Regions from separate parts of the Homo sapiens genome. Here region 2 is linked to region 1. The links come from fine-mapping of genetic effects on gene expression. A gene starts in region 1. The other region holds a variant in brackets. All regions are shown on one strand. Distances are from middle to middle.

Region 1 (5,392 bases):
GGGCTTGTGCCAGCTATTTTTAGTCAGGTCCAGGATGTGCCTAGATTGTAAACATTTCAAAGAGCAGGGATGGTATCTTCATAGTATGTACAGATTGTCCATACAGGAAATCATACTTTGAGAACATGTGCAATGAAGTCATCAAACTATTGTCTTCAGTGAGATGGTGTAAATTGCACATTATTTATGCAGCCTAAATGAAATTAAAGATTTATATATTTTAGATAATTCGATATCTATGTTTTAGACATTTAGGACCAAAGTCTACTGTAGAGTGAAAGTTTAGGGAGAAAGGGTATTTTGTGTGTTTGCTAAAGGTGAGAGTTCAAGAGGCTGAAAGGGTTGTTAGCAAGCTTTTGGTCTGAGTGGTATTTTTAAACTATCTAGCATGACTGAATTATTAATTGTAATTACTGTATTGATTATATTATCAATGGACCAAATTGTTAATTGCATAAATGCCAACTGAATGATCATTTTTCATATTGTGTAATTGGCATAACATACAGGTTCAGCCAGGCATGGCAGTCGGTACCTGTAGTCCTAGCTAATTGGGAAGCTGAGGTGGGAGGATCCCTTGAGCCTAGGAGTTTAAGACCAGCTTAGGCAACATAATGAGACCCTGTCTCAAAAAAAAATACAAGTTCAAATCAGATGGTGCCAACCAGTAGATATATAGCCAAATGATGACAGATTTATATTTCATCTCCCTTTTAATTATTATCCATCTTTTAGACCTCAGCATGAAGGAAATAGTAAATTGCCAATGAAAACCATTACAAATGGCTGGGCGTGGTGGCTCATGCCTCTAATCCCAGCCCTTTGGGAGGCTGGAGTGGGAGGATCACTTGAGCCTAGGAGTTCAAGACCAGCCTGGATAACACAGCAAGACCCTGTCTCTCCAAGAAAATAAAAAGGGGAAAAAATAGAAAATCTTTACAAAGATTTGCATGGAGGAGAAAGTAAACAGAATAAAATGAATGGATCAAGGAAAAAGGATTTATGAGAATGTACAAAAGAGCAGAGGAGAACAGAACGGTAATGAGTCTTGCCAAGGTGCCTGGAGGCAAAGGAATGAGAAACGAAGACAGACTCTTTCTTATAAACTTATCAATGAAATAAAACCATAGTCCAAATGTCCATCTATTTGGGTAAGTTCTCAAGAAATGCAGAGATAAGCAGAAAATATGAAGCCTGGCTTATAATGGTCAAAACAATTCAAGGAGAGCAAAACAACGGTCCCACCAAATCTGCCTATTAAATTAAGCTGTTAAGTCATGGGAATCATGGATAGTGATCCAACAGGATATACTCAGAAAATGAGAAAAATACTATTGAAAGCTGTTCCACAGCTCTGTTTGTGTTACCTTCGCAACAACTCAGGCAAGTGTTACTGCAGTTTTTATCTTTCTCAAGATTACAGCTGAGAAACTGACTTTTAGAGAGAGGAGATTAAGATGTTTGTGTAATGACAGATAACAAGTTAGAGGCAAAGCTAGAATTAGCAGACTGGAACTAGTTACTAGAATTCCTAGGAGTTATGACACAAGTGAATTGTCACTGCAATTAACTGGCCTGGCTAAACAAAGTTAGCATAAATTTTCAACCACTTTGGAAAACAATTTAGCTTTCTTAGAATTAATGTTGAAAATGTTCATTCTCTAATATCTGGCATTTCACTTCTACCTTAAGACAGTCAAGGACGTGCGTGCCAGGTTACATAAATAAAGAGTTCACAGCAATATTATCACAATAACTCCAAACTGGAAACAACTCAAATGTTTATCAACAGCAGAATGGATGATAAATTGTGGTATAGTTATACATTTGAATTTCATAAAGCAAAGAAAATATATGAACTATAGCTACACAGAAAATGGGTAGATCTCACAAATATAATTGTTGGGTGAAAGAAGAATTTACAAAAGAAACAGAGAATATGACTCCATTTATATGATGTCAAAAATAGGGAGGTTAATCATATTGTTTAGGCATGCAGACATAGATGGTCAAATTATAAAGAATAACAGGGACAAGAGGATCCCAACATCTTGGGGCAGAATGGGGGTTGATCAAGAATGGGCTTCTGGGTGCTGGCAATGATCTGTTTCTTGACCTGGATGATAATTATAGAAGTGTTGCCTTTCAGTTATTGTTTAAACTGTGTATGTTTATGCACTCTTAACTTTTTTTTTTTCAGTCATTTCTGAATTAGCAGGCTACCCATCACACTTCTTTCTTTCTTGGGATTTACCTCTTACTACTTCTTGCACTTTAATGGTGACCTTGAATATTTGTTGTTTTATGTGATTTTAGATGAATAAAACATGAAGAGTTAAGGTGAGAATTTCTAGTGAATTCAATTCAATCAACACATATGCTAACTGTAAGGTGTGGTGTGAACATTCCTTTCACACACATTTATACACTTTAGGAAGAATGAACCAGTTAGGCAGAAATTCAGATCAGCCAAGTTCCATTTTTCTGCTTTTAACCAATAAAGACACTTTGGGTTTCATTTTAAACATTCCCTGAAGTCAAGGTCATGCCATATGATCCAGTGATTGCAAATGGATGAACTAAAACCCAAAAAGCTCTGAATAAATTGTGCAGGAAGTTTGACATTGGCTTTCTTTGAATGGAGACTTAGAGAAGATAGAAAAAAGACCATCTTCCATAATACAAGAAAGAAAAAAAATTTTTTTTTACTAGGAAGGGAGAAAATGCATACCCTTAGGAGAAAAAAAAAGGAAAACAGAAAGCAATAGTACTCACTTTATATCTTAAGGCATGCTGTATCCAAGGGGCATTGCCTATTTCATTAAGAAATGCAAACATTCCTCTGCCTTTCTCATTTGCAGCTTGTACACACACACACACCGTATGCTAAGCATAAAAATCCTGCAGTTACCTGAAGAGGATCAAAGACACACCCTGGCTATGGCAGGTTTCTCCTCGCTGTCTCCAACTTGAGCTCCAACTCCTTCTCCCCTCCCAGGCTGTCTGGACTCCTGGACTCTGGGCAGCGCCTAAAGTAGTCCGTGGAAGCTGGCAATCACTGTGATGTCACTGATGAAACATCTCAAAGGAACACCCTCCGAAGGTTCGAGGCTATTTGTGTTCGGGGGACATGGAAATATGTTGACTAAGACTTTGTTCCTTTGGCTGCCAATTTGCCACCACCAGGATTTAAAAACCTTCTGTTTCCAGTTGACTTTTAGTGCAATTGATGTGGGTTTTAAATGTGTCTTTTACATCTTCATGAATAACTTTAACATGTCTTTAAAACATCATAAACCAAGAATGATAGACTAATTTTAACCAATCGATGCTGCATTTGACTGCTCTCCCTAGTCAGCCTGTGAGGTGTAAAAATGTGACTTCATTTTACCACCCATATCTTTAGTTATTTGAAATGTGAAGAGTTTGCTGCCTTACACCCACACATATGCACACCCATACACACACACACACACTCCAGAATTCAATAGGCATCTTTAGCTCTTTCAAAACTGACTTTAGTCCAAGCAGTGAAAGCTATCCCCTCCGTCACCTGCTCCACGTAACTTTCCAGCTAAGCTGTGCATTGCAAGTTTACACGTGGATCTACAGTTTCATCTGAAACAGCCGAGGAAGTCATGGTTTGTATATCTCTGGCAATAAATTAATAGAGCAGTAAACTCACACAGTTCAACTCAGTTATTTGGATAGATTGGGAGTGGAAGGAGAACTGGGTAAAATTAGTGAAAAATGTGAATTATAGAATATATCTGAAAGAAAGAAAAGTATTATATAACTTTCTAATATGAACACTAACTAAAATTAGACTAAGATGAGTTTGTAACCAATGTATCACATGTTTGGAGCCCCTGAAGTGTTAAATTAGACTTGAAAGCAGATCAATTAAGTACTTTAAACATGACCCTAGCAATTGTGTTTGCTCAGCAGATCCTTTCTTTATAGATAATAGAGGAAATCTCCCCCTCTGAATTCCCAATTAGGGTCAATCAAAATAATGCATTCCCAAAAGGCATAAACAAACAAAATTCTCTATGCAGTTATGCTCATAGTCAAACCTTTCCCTCCATTCCTCATACCCCAGAGACATTACCAAAACAAGACTTTCCATTTCATTTCCTCATTTTAACATAAGCTTAGCAACGGGTAATCTTAATACAACATTCTGTCACCACTTGTCTTGTGAAAAGAGCGCTTGCTGAAGTGACAGAGAGTGTATAATAATTATAGTGCAACCGAACATTGGCAGTTATCTGTTGCCATCTGGCAAACTCCTTGAATGTAATCAGAGTTCTGTCTTCTGCCTCCAAGCTCTCACTAGATTGTTTCCCAGGCTGGGAATGTTTTTCTAGTTACCAAGCCACACCTGTCCCTTTTTGTAACCACTCAAAATTATTTTTTGTCAAATTAAAAAAGTTATATATTTATTGTAGGACATGTGAAAATATATTAAAGTATTTAAAACTTTTAAATTACTTTTAATCTCACCACCCAAAGGGGAAAAAAACAAAACTTTACTTTACTTTTTTTTTCTTTTGAGATGGAGTTTTGCTCTTGTCACCCAGGCTGGAGTGCAGTGGCGTGATCTCAGCTCACTGCAACCTCCGCCTCCCGGGTTCGAGCGATTCTCCTGCCTCAGCCTCCTGGGTAGCTGGGATTACAGGCATGCACCACTATGCCTGGCTAATTTTTGTATTTTTAGTAGAGATGGGGCTTCACCATGTTGGCCAGGCTGGCCTTGAGCTTCTGACCTCAGGTGATCCAACCGCCTCAGCCTCCCAAAGTGCTAGGATTATAGGTGTGAGCCACCGGGTGCCCGGCCTACATTACTTTTTATTCATCCGTTTGAGGCTGCATAGGCACAATCTCAAATTCCCAGGATATTTTTGGTAAAAGAATCTGAAACTTGAAAACCTTTTTTCTTAATTCATTTGGAATCAAATTATTTGTAGTATATCATGTGTTGATATTAGGTTTATGGGATAAGCATTTATTTTGTACATCTCAGATTATGAATTAGCTCTACAATATTTAAAATGTTAAATACAATAGCGAAATGTTAACGTATCACCAAAAGAGCTCTCCAATGTTGTCATTTTGTTGAATTGGTCAATTTCAAAGTAACTTAGAAGAAAAATTCTACTTCTTATTTGACCGAATTGATGGGTTAGTCTGGTTTGCCTCATTTAAGCATGTCTAAGCTGCACCAAGGACTACTGTGCCCAGTGCATTGACAAATTCCCAGACTTCAGACGCTTCTGAAAATTAGTGGTTTCTTCTGTAATGTCAAGAGATTGGGATTACACTTGGAATGTAGTTATCACTAGTTTAGCTTTACCCTCTCCAGAAACACATGCAAGCCGCCCCAAATCAC
Region 2 (5,392 bases), 110 kb after region 1:
ACCAAAGTTCAATGGTTGTTAATATGTGCCAAGCACAAGGAATTTAGAATTAAGACTCACCTATTTTCTAGTCCCAGACCCTCTTTCTTCTCCCCAGAACACATCGGGGAGCTCCACTGTGTGCCCCCACAAAATACCACAACCCTCCATCACAGTACCCACCACACACTGTTCTTTCCCCAAAACTCTAAGCTCCAGGAGGAAAGGGACATTATATTCTCCATGATTAATAGTGCCTGGCAAATAGGGTATTTGCTATTGTTGAACAACCTCAGAAGTTTTCTGTGTGAGGAGTCAGACAGACCTCACAACACAAAACCACAATAAAATGAGAAAGGGTTAAAATAAGAGTTGTGCATGCAGCCAAGGAGAAGGAAAGCTCAAGATGTCCTGGAGAAGGTTCACAGAGGAGTCAAAACAATCACACACCTGAAAGGTATTTTAGGAAGATTGAGGAATGCAGGAAAGGCCATAATACAAGTTTGTGCCTAATTTAAACACTAGTTTTACATTATATATATATATGAGACACAATGATGGGATGCATTCATATACACATATATATAATATATATATGAGACACAATGATGAGATGCATTCATTTCTTTAGCTCTTCTTTATTTACTATTTCAAATTAGATAGGCAGTCCTCTACTGATTATATATTTAAAAATCACTGGGCTTTAAAAATAACACTGACAACAAGACCCCAGCCCAAACCAGTTGGATCAGATTCTCAGAGGGTAGATTCCAAGTATCAGCCTATTTTAAGTCTCCCAGATGAGTCTAAGACATGATCAGGACGGCAAACCACTAAATTATTCTTTTCTTTTTATTTGAAAAAAAGGAGTTCCAAGTGACCGATAAGATGCATTATTTGAATGCAAATTATGCATTCCCTTCACTTTATGTCTCAATAAATCTGTGCTGCTAGGTTGCATGTTGTCAGCTAAAGGCAGGATTTCATATTAGTGCTAAGACTCCTATGGAACATAGTTACTTGGGGGAGATTTTAAAATCCATTACATCTGCCACCTGTAAATACCTGGTAAAGAATAATAACTTCCAGTACGTCTATAAAAATCCTATTATGAACCCAAAAAGAAATATACATTTAGGCCAAGTTCTCGCACTCTGCACATAAGCTACCCAGTTTCTATTTCTAAAGCATTTTAAATTATATCGGAAGCATGTTTAGAAATAAATTATAAGTAGTTTTTGGTCAGGCACTGTGACTCACACCTGTAATTCCAGCACTTTGGGAAGCAGAGGTGGGCAGATCACTTGAGGCCAGGAGTTTGACACCAGCCTGGCCAACATGGCAAAACCCCATATCTACTAAAAGTACAAAAATTAGTAAGGTGTGGTGGCGTGCACCTATAGTCCCAGCTACTCAGGAGGCTGAGGCAAGAGAATCACTTGAACCCAGGAAGCGGAGTTTGCAGTGAGCCAAGATCATGCCACTTCATTCTAGCCTGGGCGACATAACAAGACAGTCTCAAAAAAAAAAAAAAAAAGAAAAAAGAAAAGAAATAAATTATAAGTAGCTTTTCTTTACATAGTGAGTAGCAGCCAAGATGAACTGTTTTCTTTCCATCTCCATAGTCCTACGATTCAAAAGTTTAGCCATCAATGTATCATCTAATTCTAGTAAGCATGAGTAGCTTGCAATTGTGAAGAACCTACATTCTGTTAGTCATATTCAAAACTCAAAGTAGCTAAAAAAGTCAAATTTTAAAAAATAGATAGTGTATTGGTGTATATGATCACCTCACAAAGAAGGCAAGTAAAAGAAAGGAAATCAGTGTTTTCTTTTTGCTCACTGGATGATGTCTTACTCGGAATAGGTGCTCAGTAAATGTTTATTAACAAAAAATGCACTATTATGAAGATGGCATCATGTTAAAATGCAAGGCAGACAATACTGTAGACAAGAGGCCCTCAAAAGTGAACTCAATGAATGTTACAGTGGAAAAAATACAAACTCCAGAGTTAGATAAAACTGGGTTCTGGATTTAAATTTGAAACATGAAAGAGAGGAGAAACAGGTACAGGCAAGTGAAAACAGTGGTTCACACCATGTGCTGTTCTGGAAAAGGCTAGTAGAGAGTGCAATTTGGATGTGACCTTCAAGAAAAGATTATTCCTTCTGAACATAGCAGAAAGAATCCTAGTCTTTGAATCCAAAGATCTAACTCTACTCTTTATTAGTGTTAGGTAGTTCTCTTATGTCTTTTTTAAGTGAGTGTAATACCACCTTTATGCGCCTAAGGGTTAATTGATGTAACCTATAAAAGTACCTAGCACATCCACCCACCTGAGGCACTGAGTGCATTTTATTTCCTTCCTTCCTCTGGCTCGCCCTGTCTTTTGGTAACCTCTTGACCATACCTGTCTATTCTATATATGCACCATCCAATAGAGTAGCCTCTACCCATATGCAGCCATTGAGTGTTTGAAACATGGCTCTATATATGCACCATCCAATAGAGTAGCCTCTACCTATATGCAGCCATTGAGTGTTTGAAACATGGCTAATGTGAATGAGGAATTGAATGTTTAATGTAATTTCGTTTCAACTTAAATAAAATAGCCATATATGGAGAATGGCTACCAAATTAGACAGTGAAGCCAGGGATCAGCATTGTGCAATACTGTAGATGTTACCACAACGATGGAAATGTTTGAAAAGTAGTTCTTGAGCACTTCAAATGTGGCTAGTATAAATGAGGAACTGAATTTTTTGTTTTA[T/C]TCTATTTTAATTCATTTTCATTTAAATAACCACATGTGGCTGGGGGTTATAGTATTGAATAACACAGCCCTAGCCTGGTGCTTCTCAAACTTTCATGTGATATGAATCATCTAAGGCTCTTGTTAAAGTGCAGCTTCTGATTCAGTAGGTTTGGAGAGAGGCCTGAGATTCCGCATTTCTTTCTTTTTTTTTTTTTTTTTCTTTTTTTTTTGAGATGGAGTCTCGATCTGTTGCCCAGGCTGGAGTCCAGTGGCACGATCGCGGCTCACCGCAACCTCCACCTCCTGGGTTCAAGTGATTCTCCTGCCTCAGCCTCTCCAGTAGCTGGGATTACAGGCGCCTGCCACCACACACAGCTTATTTTTGTAGTTTTAGTAGAGACGGGTTTCACCATGTTGGTCAGGCTGGTCTCAAACTCCTGACCTCGTGATCCGCCCACCTCGGCCCCCCAAAGTTGTTGGGATTACAGTCGTGAGCCACCGCGCCCGACCTGAGATTCCGCATTCCTAAGAAGCTCTCAGGAGATACTTATGCTGCTGGTCCACGGACCAGACTTTGAGTGAGCAAGGGTCTACAGCAATGCTTCTGATTCTGAGGTCTCTCAACTTTTAGGAATCCGTGGAAGAAGTGAATGCAATCCATGGGCTGTTCAGGATCTGTTTTTGACACTTCAAAAACTTAACAGTACTTCTGACTGTTGCTGGTAAAAGCGTAAAATAATAAATCTCTATTTCAGCGGGAGAGTTTGGGGGTGCTGATTTGACAATTTCTAGCAATTTTGTCTCAAGGAATCTACCCCAAGGCAACTCTGGCAAAAATACAAAAAGGTGTATTTACAAAGCTATTCATTACAGCACTATTTATACTAGCAAAAGACTAAAGGAAAAAAACAAAATGTCTAACAATGGGAGACTAGCTGAATAAACACACAGGAGTACTACTGTACAGCTATAAAAAGCAAGGCACATATTTATATGTACTGTTATAAAGTGACTGCCAGGTATACCTTTTTTAAAAAGGAAGCAAATGTGGAGAAAAATGGGTATGGAATGCAAATATTTATCTATAATTTGTTAATTTTTTAAAAGGAAAGATAAAACTTTTTTTTTTTTTTTGAGATGCAGTTTTGCTCTTGTTGTCCATGCTGGAGTGCAATAGCTCGATCTGGGCTCACCACAACCTCCGCTTCCCAAGTAGCTGGGATTACAGGCATGTGCCACCACGTCCAACCAATTTTGTATTTTTAGTAGAGATAGGGTTTCTCCATGTTGGTCAGGCTGGTCTCGAACTCCTGACCTCAGGTGATCCATTCTCCTTGGCCTCCCAAAGTGCTGGGATTACAGACATCAGCCACTGCATCCAGCCAAAACAAAACTTTTTAAAAGTTGTGTATAGGGAGGACAGCAGAGGGAGCAAAGTAAAAGGTGTATGTCTGACTATACCTTGTTTTATAGATTTGCCTTTGAGGCCATGTAAGTATGTTACATAACTTATAATTATGTAAAACAAAAATTAAATTTAAAAAAGCCACATCTAAAATAAAATTTAAAATAAACTTGATGTTTTAAAAATTGGTAGCAAAACCTGACAGGAATTATTTCAAGGGACTTTAAAATATACTAATTTGATAGTACACTCCTAATAAAATATACCATAGGATCAAAAAGAACTGTACAATAGCTTAAACTGTTTTGATATGGTGTTGATATTATTCTGGGAGTATTTACAAATACTGTGGAATACAGAAAATAAGAAAATTATATTGATGGAAGCCCCTTTAACCTCTTCTGGTTTTCAGTGCTATGTCCCCCTACAATATGAATATTGTATATACATATTGATATATGAATATCGTATATACATACATATACAATATGAATATTGATGTATTCATTGGGATATATAGAAAAAAGATGAAGATGTAAGATTGAAGAGGTTGAGTTAAAAACCTTATAGTTTTGAACTTTACTGAAAGGTACAATTGACTCATGAGTACTTCGTAGTATGTCATGAGTATTTCATAACATATACATATATATATCCTATCTCTTTCCCCTAAAAAGCTCTGAAACAATGACTAATCCATTAATTATGAACACCCCTAGTGCCTAGATAATGGCAACTAAATACTACCTCCCACTAAAAAGAACTAGGAGCTGGGCGTGGTGGCTCACACCTGTAATACCAGCACTTTGCGAGGCCAAGGTGGGTGGATCACTTGAGGTCAGGTGTTCAAGACTAGCCTGGCCAAAAGGGTGAAACCCCATCTCTACTAAAAATACAAAAATGGCTGGATGTGGTGGCTCACGCCTGTAATCCCAGCACTTCAGGAGGCCGGGGCGGGAGGATCACCTGAGCTCAGGAGTTCGAGACCAGCCTGGCCACCATGGCGAAACCCCATCTCTACTAAAAATACAAAAATCAGCCGGGCATGGTGGCATGCACCTGTAATCCCAGCTACTCGGAAGGCTGAGGCAAGAGAATCACTAGAACCCAGGAGGCAGTGGTTGCAGTGAGCCGAGATCGCAACACTGCACTCCAGCCTGGGCGACAGAGCAAGACTCTGTCTCAAAAAAAAAAAAAAATTAGCTGGGCGTGGTGGAGCACCCATAATCCCAACTATCCAGGAAGCTGAGGGAGG

The links. PIP is the estimated chance that this variant, and not a neighbour inherited with it, causes the effect.
Region 2: its variant is fine-mapped to the expression of SLN in lung (TOPMed, PIP 0.95).

Annotation. Positions count from the first base shown.
Region 1 is chr11:107,709,052-107,714,443 of GRCh38, forward strand. SLN (sarcolipin) reads right to left here and starts at 3,005. Exons shown (of 2, transcript NM_003063.3): 1 at 2,912-3,005.
Region 2 is chr11:107,822,428-107,827,819 of GRCh38, forward strand. All of the region lies in intron 1 of SLC35F2 (solute carrier family 35 member F2), which reads right to left. Among named protein-coding and RNA genes, the nearest start is that of SLC35F2, 34 kb to the right of the region's middle. RefSeq lists an enhancer at 3,040-3,539. The variant T/C (reference allele first, on the strand shown) is at 2,751.